Linked DNA regions of Homo sapiens: region 2 is linked to region 1. The links come from fine-mapping of genetic effects on gene expression. A gene starts in region 1. The other region holds a variant in brackets. All regions are shown on one strand. Distances are from middle to middle.

Evidence for each region. PIP is the estimated chance that this variant, and not a neighbour inherited with it, causes the effect. A credible set is the group of variants that fine-mapping cannot tell apart.
Region 2: its variant is the best candidate, but not a certain one, in a credible set for the expression of PKN3 in minor salivary gland (GTEx, PIP 0.55).

The regions. Positions count from the first base shown.
Region 1 is chr9:128,700,048-128,705,047 of GRCh38, forward strand. PKN3 (protein kinase N3) reads left to right here and starts at 2,456. Exons shown (of 22, transcript NM_013355.5): 1 at 2,456-2,892. The coding sequence starts at 2,869. RefSeq lists a silencer at 2,349-2,918 and an enhancer at 2,733-3,272.
Region 2 is chr9:128,748,373-128,753,882 of GRCh38, forward strand. It overlaps ZER1 (zyg-11 related cell cycle regulator), which reads right to left. Exons shown (of 16, transcript NM_006336.4): 3 at 5,437-5,510; 4 at 4,792-5,228; 5 at 4,301-4,477; 6 at 3,041-3,155; 7 at 2,750-2,896; 8 at 2,244-2,417. It overlaps LOC124902340 (small nucleolar RNA U13), which reads left to right and starts at 986; the gene lies at 986-1,089. The variant A/G (reference allele first, on the strand shown) is at 2,719.

The sequences.
Region 1 (5,000 bases):
TGGACCCGGGAGGTGGAGGTTGCAGTGAGCCAAAATTGAGCCACTGCACTCCAGCCTGGGTGACAGAGCAAGACTCTCTCAAAAAAACAAAAAACAAAGCCACTTTCCAACCAAACTTGGAAAACCATCGAATTCAGCTTCCTGCCTGCAGTGAGTGGATAAATGAGCCGGGAGTTGAGATGTGAGCACCCTCCTATGGAGAGTTATCTCAGATTACTCTTGGCTTCCAGAAGTAACATTTAGCCATCAAGGCAAATACACATTTTAAAGTGTTAATTAGCTGGCTGGACTGATTGCACCACTGGAGAATTCCTAAAAGGTGGGGAAGGCTTGTTAGTTTGATTCCTGGGTTTTTGATGAGCTGCAGTGAGAAGCTGAGGACTTTTTTACTTCTTTATTTTACTTTTTTAAGAGATGGTGTCTCACTATGTTGGCCAGGTTGGTCTTGAACTCTTAGGCCTCAAGCAATCCTCCTGCCTCATCAGCCTCCCAGAGTTCTAGGATTACAGGCATGAGCCACTGGGCTTGGTCAGCCTTTTTGCTTCTAAATGATGGATAATAACGTTCATTTAACCTCCATTTTATTTTATTTTTATTTATTTATTTTTCTTGAGACAGAATCTTGCTCTGTTGCCCAGGCTGGAGTGTAGTGGCGTGATCTTAGCTCGCTGCAACCTCTGCCTCCCAGATTCAGGTGATTTGCCTGCCTCAGCCTCCCGAGTAGCTGGGACTACAGGCGTGCGCTACCACGCCCAGCTAGTTTTTCTAATTTTTTATTTTATGTATTTTTTTGAGATGCAGTTTTGCTCTTGTCATCTAGGCTGGAGTGTAGTGGCGAGATTGGCTTACTGCAACCTCCACTTCCCAGGTTCAAGTGATTCTCCAGCCTCAGCCTCCCTAGTAGCTGGGATTACAGGCACCCACCACCATGCCCAGCTAATATTTTTTTTTTGTAGTTTTAGTAGAGACGGGGTTTCACCATGTTGGCCAGGCTGGTCTCGAACTCCTGACCTTGTGATCCGCCTGCCTCGGCCTCCCAAAGTGCTAGGATTACAGGCGTGAGCCACCGCGCCCAGCTGCCTTTTTAATTTTTTTTTAGCAGAGACGGGATTTCACCATGTTGGCCAGGCTGGTCTTGAACTCCTGACCTTAAGTGATCTGCCCTCCTCAGCCTCCCAAAGTGCTGGGATTACAGGCATGAGCCACCATGCCCAGCCAACCCCCATGTCAAAGAACCTACTATGTGCCAGGTGCTTCTGCTAATGTCTAGACCTCAACAACTCTAATGTGTAAATGTCACATTTCGCCTCTGATTATGAAATCTGGGCATGTTTCACAGAGCCAAGTTGCCTTTGCTTATATGTCAATGCCACTTGGGTGATTTCCCATAGCAGGACAACCCAGTGTTGTCCATGGCTCACCAATTTCACTTTTTTCCAGTCCATTATGAAGGAAGTGATTAGTGCAAAGCACAACATGTGGCTTCCTTCATTCAGTAAGAGCACCAGAGCCTGTCTGTTCCAAGTCACTGTCGGTATTTGACCCTTCATCACCTTCCCACCTCCTGGAGGACGCTCCTCCACGAAGTGCTGACACAACCTCCTGTAAACGCAGGATGCCAGGACGGGCTGAATGGCCCGCCATAGACTAGGCAGTGACCAGCACACCTCCCTTGGGCTGAAATAGTGGCGGCTATTTCACCAGGTGTAAATGGCTTTTCTCCCGTGTGGATGGATGGGCTTTTTAGGGTAAAGCCCTAAAAAGTGGCACGGGCTGAACCAGCAAGCTCAGTCTGAGTAAGAGATGGGCCGGAGAGAGGTCTGGTTCATTCATCTGTAATTTGTAATTTATCATAATTTTGGGTGAGGATTTACTTTTCCACAAGTATACGTTCTTTTTTTTTTTTTTTTTTTTTTTTTGAGATGGAGTCTCGCTCTGTCACCCAGGTTGGAGGGCAGTGGCAGGATCTCGGCTCACTGCAACCTCCGCCTACTGGGTACAAGTGATTCTCCCACCTCAGCCTCCTGAGTAGCTGGGATTACAGGCGCCCGCCACCACGACCGGCTAATTTTTGTATTTTTAGTAGAGACGGGGGTTTCACCATGTTGGCCAGGCTGGTCTCGAACTCCTGACCTCGTGATCCGTCCACCTCTGCCTCCCAAACTGCTGGGATTACAGGCGTGAGCCACCGCACCTGGCCTAGTATACATTCTTGTAGTGACTAATATCTAGTCTGGGCCAACCACTCCGAGGAGAGAGACAATTTTGGATTAGCCCACATTACACCAACAACGTGCGAGACAAAGAGAGACTTGAGGGGCTTGGTCGAGGAGGCCCAGCGCGTTAGAGGCGGGAGCCAGGTTGTAGAGGGGCTCAAAGTTAGAGGAGGCGGCCAGCTCCACCGGCTGCACCCGGCTGGGCGACCCGGCAACCTTCAGGGGGCGCTGTTTCCCCCATCCCTGTCCCTAACTGGCCGGCTCCCGCGGGCGCGCGGCGGGGAAGGCCAGAGGACCTGGGCGCGGGCGATGTGCCTCCTGAGCGTCCAAACCGGGGGTGAGGCGCGGTCACGCCCAGCGGGAACCGCAGGCGCCGAAGCCCGGGTACTGGGCCCAGAATCCCGCGGAATTTTGGATCCGAGGGAGGCGCTGGGGCGCGGGACCTCGGGCGTGGGGTCCCGGGCGCTGGATCGGCGCGGACGGGAGGCGGCGCTGGTCCCGCGGGCCAGCGGGTCTCGGGAGGGGGCGCCCGATCCCGCGTCTCCGGCGCCGCTTCCCGGGAAGTTTCAAGTTTGAAAGTCCTGGCGGAGGGTCTGCGGCTTCCGGGACCGGAGTGGCTGAGAGAAGGGCCCCAAGCGGCCGGAGCGGCGCCATGGAGGAGGGGGCGCCGCGGCAGGTGAACGGCGTGGGAGGGGCGCGCGGGCCCGGGGGGTGCGAGAAAGCCTCTGTCATCGCCCCGGAGCCCCGAACCGCGGCCGCTTCCCCCGATCCTCCCCTCACCCGCGCCCCTTCCCTGCCCCTGCCCTGGCCCCGGCCCCGCGACGCCCTCGCAGAGCAGACCTGATCTCCGGGTTCGGTGGTTCCTGGACCTTGCACAGTCTCCAAATCAGTCCGCGGCTGACCCGGAGACTGAACCCCAACCAGCCCGTGAGCGAGGACGGCTGAGTCCGCAGTGTGCGCCACCAGGGTGGTCCCCAGAGTGTCCTTAAGTCGGTTCTCCTCGGTGGGGCTCCAAGGCCGACGGGAATTAGCCGGGATAGAAAGGCGGGGCACAGGGGCCTGGGGGGGTTAGAATGTGCGCGCAGCGGGGGGCGCAGTCTGTGCGCGCTTGGCAGTGGCAGGAGTCCTTCCCGGAGCACAGGAGGCACGAGGGGAGCGTAGATGAGAGGGGAGCGGCCTCCCCCGCCCCAGGGCGGGAACCTTTGGGTACATAGCGGGTTCTAGAATGCGGAGGGGGCTGGGTTTCCTGCCAGAGCTGGCAGTAGGTGCGCGTGGGCCCGGAGGACCGAGGCCATGTCTATCTGCTCCTGAGGAGGGAGAGGTGGTGTCCTGTTCCGGAGCGAGTGGTTGGGAGGGGGGCATTTGCGGACAGGAGTGGGTCCCCGCAAAGAGCGGAAAGGAGGTGGTGTGTGTGTCCATGTTGGAGTTCCAACCCAGGGCAGACGGGACCATGGGGGTGTTGCGGGGTGCGTGTAGACTCCTTGAGCGCCCAAGCCAGTCGTTTAGGCCGCCTTCAGGGCTGGGGCTCGGTCTGCCCCCTCCCACCCCCTTCCTCTGGAGGTCCCTCCGCCTGTTCCAGACGTAGCTTGTACACATTTTCCGATTTCCTGCGGGGCTCCGCCCTGCAGCGGCAGCTGGGTGACTCAGGACCCCGGTGGCCGGGCCCCCAGCTCCATGGGACCTTTGTTTGCTCCGGTCTTTGGCTCTGGCCCTGTGGCCTAGGGCGGTCAGAGGATTTCCTGAGCCTCGCCCTTGCCCTCTGACAGCTGGGCCAGCAGGCCCCGCTGAGGTCTGGGGTGGGGGGGTCCCTGAGTCTGGGGTTGCGGCCCCTTCCACTGGGCTCAGGAGAAGATGGAACACAGAGAGGTAAGATGGGGTTCCTGCAACAGCCCGTGTTGCGGGGCATCATGGGTTACCCGGCCTGAGGTCACCTTTGGCACCGGTTGGTTTGAAATGCTGGCGGCTGGAAAGGAGGTGTTCCTGTTCCTGGCTCCAACCTGGGTGAAGCCGTGAGAGAGCCTTCTACTTCCTCCCGGGAGCTGAGCAGGGAGTGGGCACCCGGAGACCTCCCCAGTTCCTCTCTGTGCCTCTGCTTTGCTACCTGTGGCATTGGGACATCAGGGGAACAAGCCCTGGCTCCCAGGCCCCTGGCTGCCTTCTCATGTGGCTTCGTGTGAACCCCTATTCGGCGTAGCTTTTGTGGCTCCTGGACTCTACTTTGGGTCCCAGATGTAGAGAGAGCAGCCTGATTACCCAGGGCTGCCAGGGACAGCTGGGGCCCGAGAGATGGTGGCCCCTCCTCTGTGTCTTGACTGTGGGCAAGTTACTTCACCTCTCTGGGCCTCAGTTTCCTCACTAGAAAATAGGGGTAATAGTACAGGCGTGGTGGCTCACACCTGTAATCCCAGCACTTTGGGAGGCCAAGGCAGGTGGATCACCTGAGGTCAGGATTCAAGACCAGCCTGACGAACATGGAGAAACCCCGTCCCTACTAAAAATACAAAATTAGCCGGGCTTAGTGGCGTGTGCCTGTAATCCCAGCTACTCAGGAGGCTGGGGCAGGAGAATCGCTTGAACCCGGGAGGCAGAGGTTGTGGTGAACCGAGATCGTGCCATGGCACTCCAGCCTGGGCAACAAGAGCAAAACTGTCTCAAAAAAAAAAAAAAGAAAAAGAAAAAGAAAAAAGAAAATGGGGGTAATGACCACCGCTACCGGGTGGGGTGGCTGGGAGGAGTGATGTGGTAATATATGCAAAGCACTTAGAATAGAACCTGGCACCCATT
Region 2 (5,510 bases), 49 kb after region 1:
GCCTGGGTGACAGAGCGAGACTCTGTCTCAAAAAAAAAAAAAAAAAAATTAGTTGGGTGTGGTGGTACATGCCTTGTTGTCCCAGCTACTGGGGAGGCTGAGTTGGGAGGCTTGCTTGAGCCTGAGAGGTGGAGGCCACAGTGAGCTGTGATCATGCCGCTATACTCCAGCCTTGGCAACAAAGTGAGACCCTGTGTATTTGTTTTTGTTTTTCTTTGTGACAGAGTCTCCCTCTGTCACCCAGGCTGGAGTTCGGTGGCTTGATCTCAGCTCACTGCAACCTCTACCTCCTGGGTTCCAGCAATTCTCCTGCCTCAGCCTCCCAGGTAGCTGGGACTACAGGCGCCTGCCACCATGCCCAGCTAATTTGTGTATTTTTAGTAGAGACAGGGTTTCACCACGTTGGCCAGGCTGGTCTCGAACTCCTGACTTCAGGTGATCCGCCTGCCTCAGCCTCCCAAAGTGCTGGGATTACAGGTGTGAGCCACCGTGGCCAGCTAATTTTTGTATTTTTTAGTAGAGATGGGGTTTCGCCATGTTGGCCAGGCTGGTCTCAAACTCCTGACCTCATGATCTGCCTGCCTCAGCCTCCCAAAGTGCTGGGATTACAGGCGTGAGCCACCACGCCCAGCCTGAGACCCTGTCTTAATTAAAATATATATATATATATTGTGGCTGAGCACGGTGGCTCACGCCTGTAATCCCAGCACTTTGGGAGGCCGAGGCAGGTGGATCACCTGAGCTCAGGAGTTCGAGACCAGCCTGGCCAACATGGCGAAACCCTGTCTCTACTAAAAATACAAATATTAGCCTGGCATGGTGGCACGTGCCTGTAGTCCCAGCCACTAGGGGGGCTGAGGCAGGAGGATCACTTGAACTCAGGAGGCAGAGATTGCAGTGAGCCAAGATTGTGCACTGCACTCCAGCCTGGGCGACAGAGTAAGACTCCATCTCGAAAAAATAAATAAATAAAAATTATTGTTTGATCCTTTCGTAGTTTATAAGAGTGATGATTAGGTCTTCATGCTCATGTGTGAAATGTGCCTCCCTCAAACCATGTTAGGACGTTGGCATATTGCCCATCTGAAATGAAAAAAAGTTTTTGTTATATAAATATGTTGGCTGGGTGTGGTGGCACATGCTTGTAATCCCAGCACTTTGGGAGGCTGAGGCAGGTGGATCACCTGAGGTCAGGAGTTCAACACCAGACTGACCAACATGGCAAAACCCCGTCTCTACTAAAAATACATAAATTAGGCAGGTGTGGTGGCATGCACCTGTAGTCCCAGCTACTTGGGAGGCTGAGGCAGGAGAATCACTTGAACCCGCCACTGCTCTCCAGCTTGGGCAACAGAGCAAGACTCCATCTGAAAAAAAAATTTGTTGGCTGGCCAGGCGCAGTGGCTCACATCTGTAATCCCAGCACTTTGGGAGGCTGAGGCAGGTGGATCACCTGAGGTCAGGAGTTCGAGACCAGCCTGACCAATATGGTAAAATCCCATCTTTACTAAAAATACAAAATTAGCCGGGCATGGTGGCGCATGCCTGTAATCCCAGCTACTCGGGAGGCTGAGACAGGAGAATCACTTGAACCCGGGAGGTGGAAGTTGCAGTGACCCGAGATTGTGCCATTGCACTCCAGCCTGGGCAATAAGAGTGAAACTCCATCTCAAAAAAGAAAAAAATTGTTGGCGGATAAGGGAGATGTTCATATTCATGTGACAACACAGTTGAAGTAAAAATCCACCATATACAAACAGTATGCAGTTTGTGTATCCCATTTACAAAATATGTGTGCATAGGCTAAAATTCACAATTGATATCCCATGTTAATGGTGCCTGTCTCTGGGTAGTGGGTTTATGGGTGATTTTTATTTTCTGTATATCTGTAATTATAACTTTTCTATAATAAAGGCTTTTATTACTTTTATATTAAAAGCAGCTGTTGGTAAGAAATCCCCCAGCAGAGTGTATGGGCAGAAGGGCTGAGGAGACGGCACAGGCAGGGAGAAGGGCAGGGTCCCTGGGCCCCCACCCCCACATGGGGCAGGGAGGAGGATGGAGGGCAGCCAGGAGTGATGGACTGTGGGAAGGGCCAGGTCCCAAGAGTCAGGGAGTGCTGCTGTGGGAAAGGGAGCTGGGACAGATGCAGCCCAGAGCCGGGGGAGCCCTAGCGGGACGCAAGAAGCAGGAAAGGGGTGGCTGGGCCAGAGCATGCGGGGCCGTGGCGGGTGGGGGCTCACCGTCACCTCCTGGTAGGATTCCATGCCATTCAGCACCACCTGGATAACCTGCCGGCGCAGCTTCACACTCTGCTCTGAGCGGTACTCGGAATTTGTTAGGTAGAAGAGAGCGGCGCTGCCTGTCACTTGAATGTTCCTGTCATATTTGTGGCACTTGAGGGCCGTGATGACCAGCTGTATGAAGACAAGGGGGACCTGGGCTGGCAAGTGCAGGGAGAGGCCTGGGCTCTGCAAGGGGCTGGAACAGGCTCTCTGGGGCAAGGTTTAGCCTGGTCTTGCTCTCTAAAGGCAGAAGTGGGGCCTGGGGAGCAGACACCAGGGTGGGGACCAAACAAGGCCAGTGCTGAAGCAAGTCAAGTGCTGTGAGGCCCAGGCTGGGGTTCGGGTCCTGGGGCCCTGGGGACAGGGTGCAGAAGGACACAGGCTCTGGGGACACGGCTCAGCCAAGCCCGGCAACCTCCAGGTGGGGAGGGAC[A/G]GGAGGCCAAGGCCCCAGGCTTGGAGCTGACCTTCAGGGCCCGCAGCAGCTGGTTGCAACGCTCGATGCGGGCGATGTCAAAAAGCAAGTTGATGGCCCGCGAGGTGATCTCAGGCCGGTGCTCCGTGTAGGCCTCGATGGCATTCAGCACCTGCTCTTCGTTTTTGTCACCACTTACCTGCGGGTGGGACACGCTCAGAACAACCCAGCAGAGGCCAAGGGCTGGGATGCCAGATCCCAGCTCAGTCTCCAGCCCCAGAATCCAGCTCCTTCTCTCTCCCAAGGCTCCCTGGCCCAGACCCATCCCACTTCCACTGCTCACTTTGTAGGCTGGAATGTGCGTGAGGCGGCACAGAGAGTTCTCAAAGAGCCCGAGGAACTGCAGCGGCCTCTTCAGAGCCCGGAAAGGTATGATGCTGCTCTTGGAAGGCTCAATGCTGGGGAAAGAGGGTGCCGGTGTCAGTGGCTTGGGACCCAGGCCTGAGCTGGGCCTCCCCACTGGGGGTGGTGAGGCATTTCCTTGCTTTCTCTTCTAGGCCCTCCAACCTCATCCCCTACTCCTTTTGTTTTTAATGGTAGGGGACATAAGCACCACCTCCTGATGGAAGCATGGCAAAGCCACATAGTAGGGGAACACATAGGATGGGCAATGCAGCCACCTTTAGAAACCACCTGCCATTCTAGTAAGGACATGGCACCTTTAGGTCTCACCAACAATCACAAAGGGACAAGCTCAACTGAACACCATTAAAGCAGGCTGGGGCCAGGGCTTATGGGTGGCCAGTTACAGCTGGTAGGGTTTGGTCAAACTTCTCAACCAACCAATCCAAGAACCGACCTATGTCCAGCAATACTCCATAGGTGGCAGACACTGCCAGCCTTGCCTCTTCCCCCCATGGCACTGTGCTCTGGTCAGGCTGAGTGTTGGGTAGTTCCCCTGTCGCTCCTCATGCTCTCACCTACTGGCCTTTGCAGGTGCTGTTCCCTCTGCTAGAACACGCTTCCTCTGGCAGAGGCAGAATGAGCTTTCAGGACAGCCAGGATGCGTCCCTCCTCCTCCTTCCTTCCTGATCCTCAGGCCACACCGGGGCCCTGGATTGCCCCTACCATAGCCCTTGTAATGACTTGATTGTCCCCACCAGCTCACACAGCCTCCAAGAGGGCAGGACCTGATTTGTTTCTTTATCTCTAGCACCCAGCACAGCACTTGGCAGAGGGGTACTTGGCAAATACTTTCTTTTTTTTTTTTTTTGAGACAAAGTCCCACTTTGTTGCCTAGGCTGGAGTGCAGTGGCGCGATCTCAGCTCACTGCAGGCTCCGCCTCCCGGCTTCAATTCTCATACCTTAGCCTCCCAAGTAGCTGGGACTACAGGTGTCTGCCACCATGTCCAGCTAAATTTTGTATTTTTAGTAGAAATGGGGTTTCACCATGTTGGCCAGGCTGGTCTCTAACTCCTGGCCTCAAGTGATCCGCCCATCTTGGCTTCCCAAAGTGCTGGGATTACAGGCGTGAGCCACTGCGCCAGCCTAAATGCCTGTTGAATGACACCCTACCAGTAGCCATGGAGGCTGGGGCCCCACCTGGTCTGCCCCGCTTCCTCTTCCATCTTGGAGATGCTGCAGTTCTCTAGGATCATGTGGCCAGAGATGTCCAGGGACATTAGGTTCCCCAGCTTCTGCACAAAGAGGCTCAGCACCTCCCGAGTCAGCTTGAACTTGTAGTAGCTGGAGAGGCGGTCTCGGGAGATGTCCAGGTGTCTGAAGATTGGGGTAGGGGGTGCAGGTTAGGAGCTGGGTACAGGGTGGGGCTGCCTTGCAGATCCCAGCTCCTTTAGTCTGTAGCAGGGGAGGGCCCATTCCTGCCACAACTTCCCCAGGGCATTCTGGGAAGAAACCCCAAACAGCCCCAATCCAGCTGAAACACTGGGTTTAAGGAATGGGACTGTGTCTTCATCCCCACCCTCTGCCTAGCCAAGCGCTCCTGAACCCTGAGGGCGTGACAACACCCACCTCTACTCCTCCCCACCTGCCCCCCAAACCCCACCCTGGTGAGCTCTGGGCCAGGAGCTCACCGCAGCTTGTGCAGCTGCACGATGACCCGGATGTGGTCGTCGGACAGGTCCATGTTGTAGAGGACGAGGGACACCAGGCTGTCTTTCCACTGGGTGAGGAAGGCGGCGTCGCTCGTCTGAATGCCTGAGAGGTCCAAGGCAGCCAGGGAGTTAAGCGGCCGCAGCAGGGACTCCACAGGGACCCAATCAATCATGCGGCCCAAGTTGAGGAAGCGGAGGCGGCTGAAGCCCTCGAAGGTGAAATCCTTAACCAGCACCTGGCAGGTGGGGTTGACGAGGTACTCATCTTCACAGCCCCCTGGGTTCTCCTCCTCATAGAAAATGTTTGTACAGCCGAAGAGGCTCAAGGACACCAGGGTGTGGCTGAAGCTCCTCAGTGTCTGCAGGCTCTTGGCGGACAGCTTCTCGCAGTTAGTCAGGTACAGCTCCACCAGGTCCTGGGAGTGGGCACAGCTCCATCATCATCACCACCCTTGCCCCTTCCCCCGGCCCCAGGCCTTGCCCTGGGCTACAGGTGGGTTGGAAAGGGGGATGTGCACAGTCACGGTGCACACTGGCTGGGCTGGGGATGGCTGGGCTGGAGGCGAGCAGCCTGGCCCCTGCTTGGTGTGGGCCCTCCTGGCGCTGTGGCGGGGCAGGTCTCACCTGCTTGCGGATGGCCTCCAGGTCCTGGTCCTGCACCAGGTCCTCACGGAGGTGGATCCGCGTGAGGCGGGTGC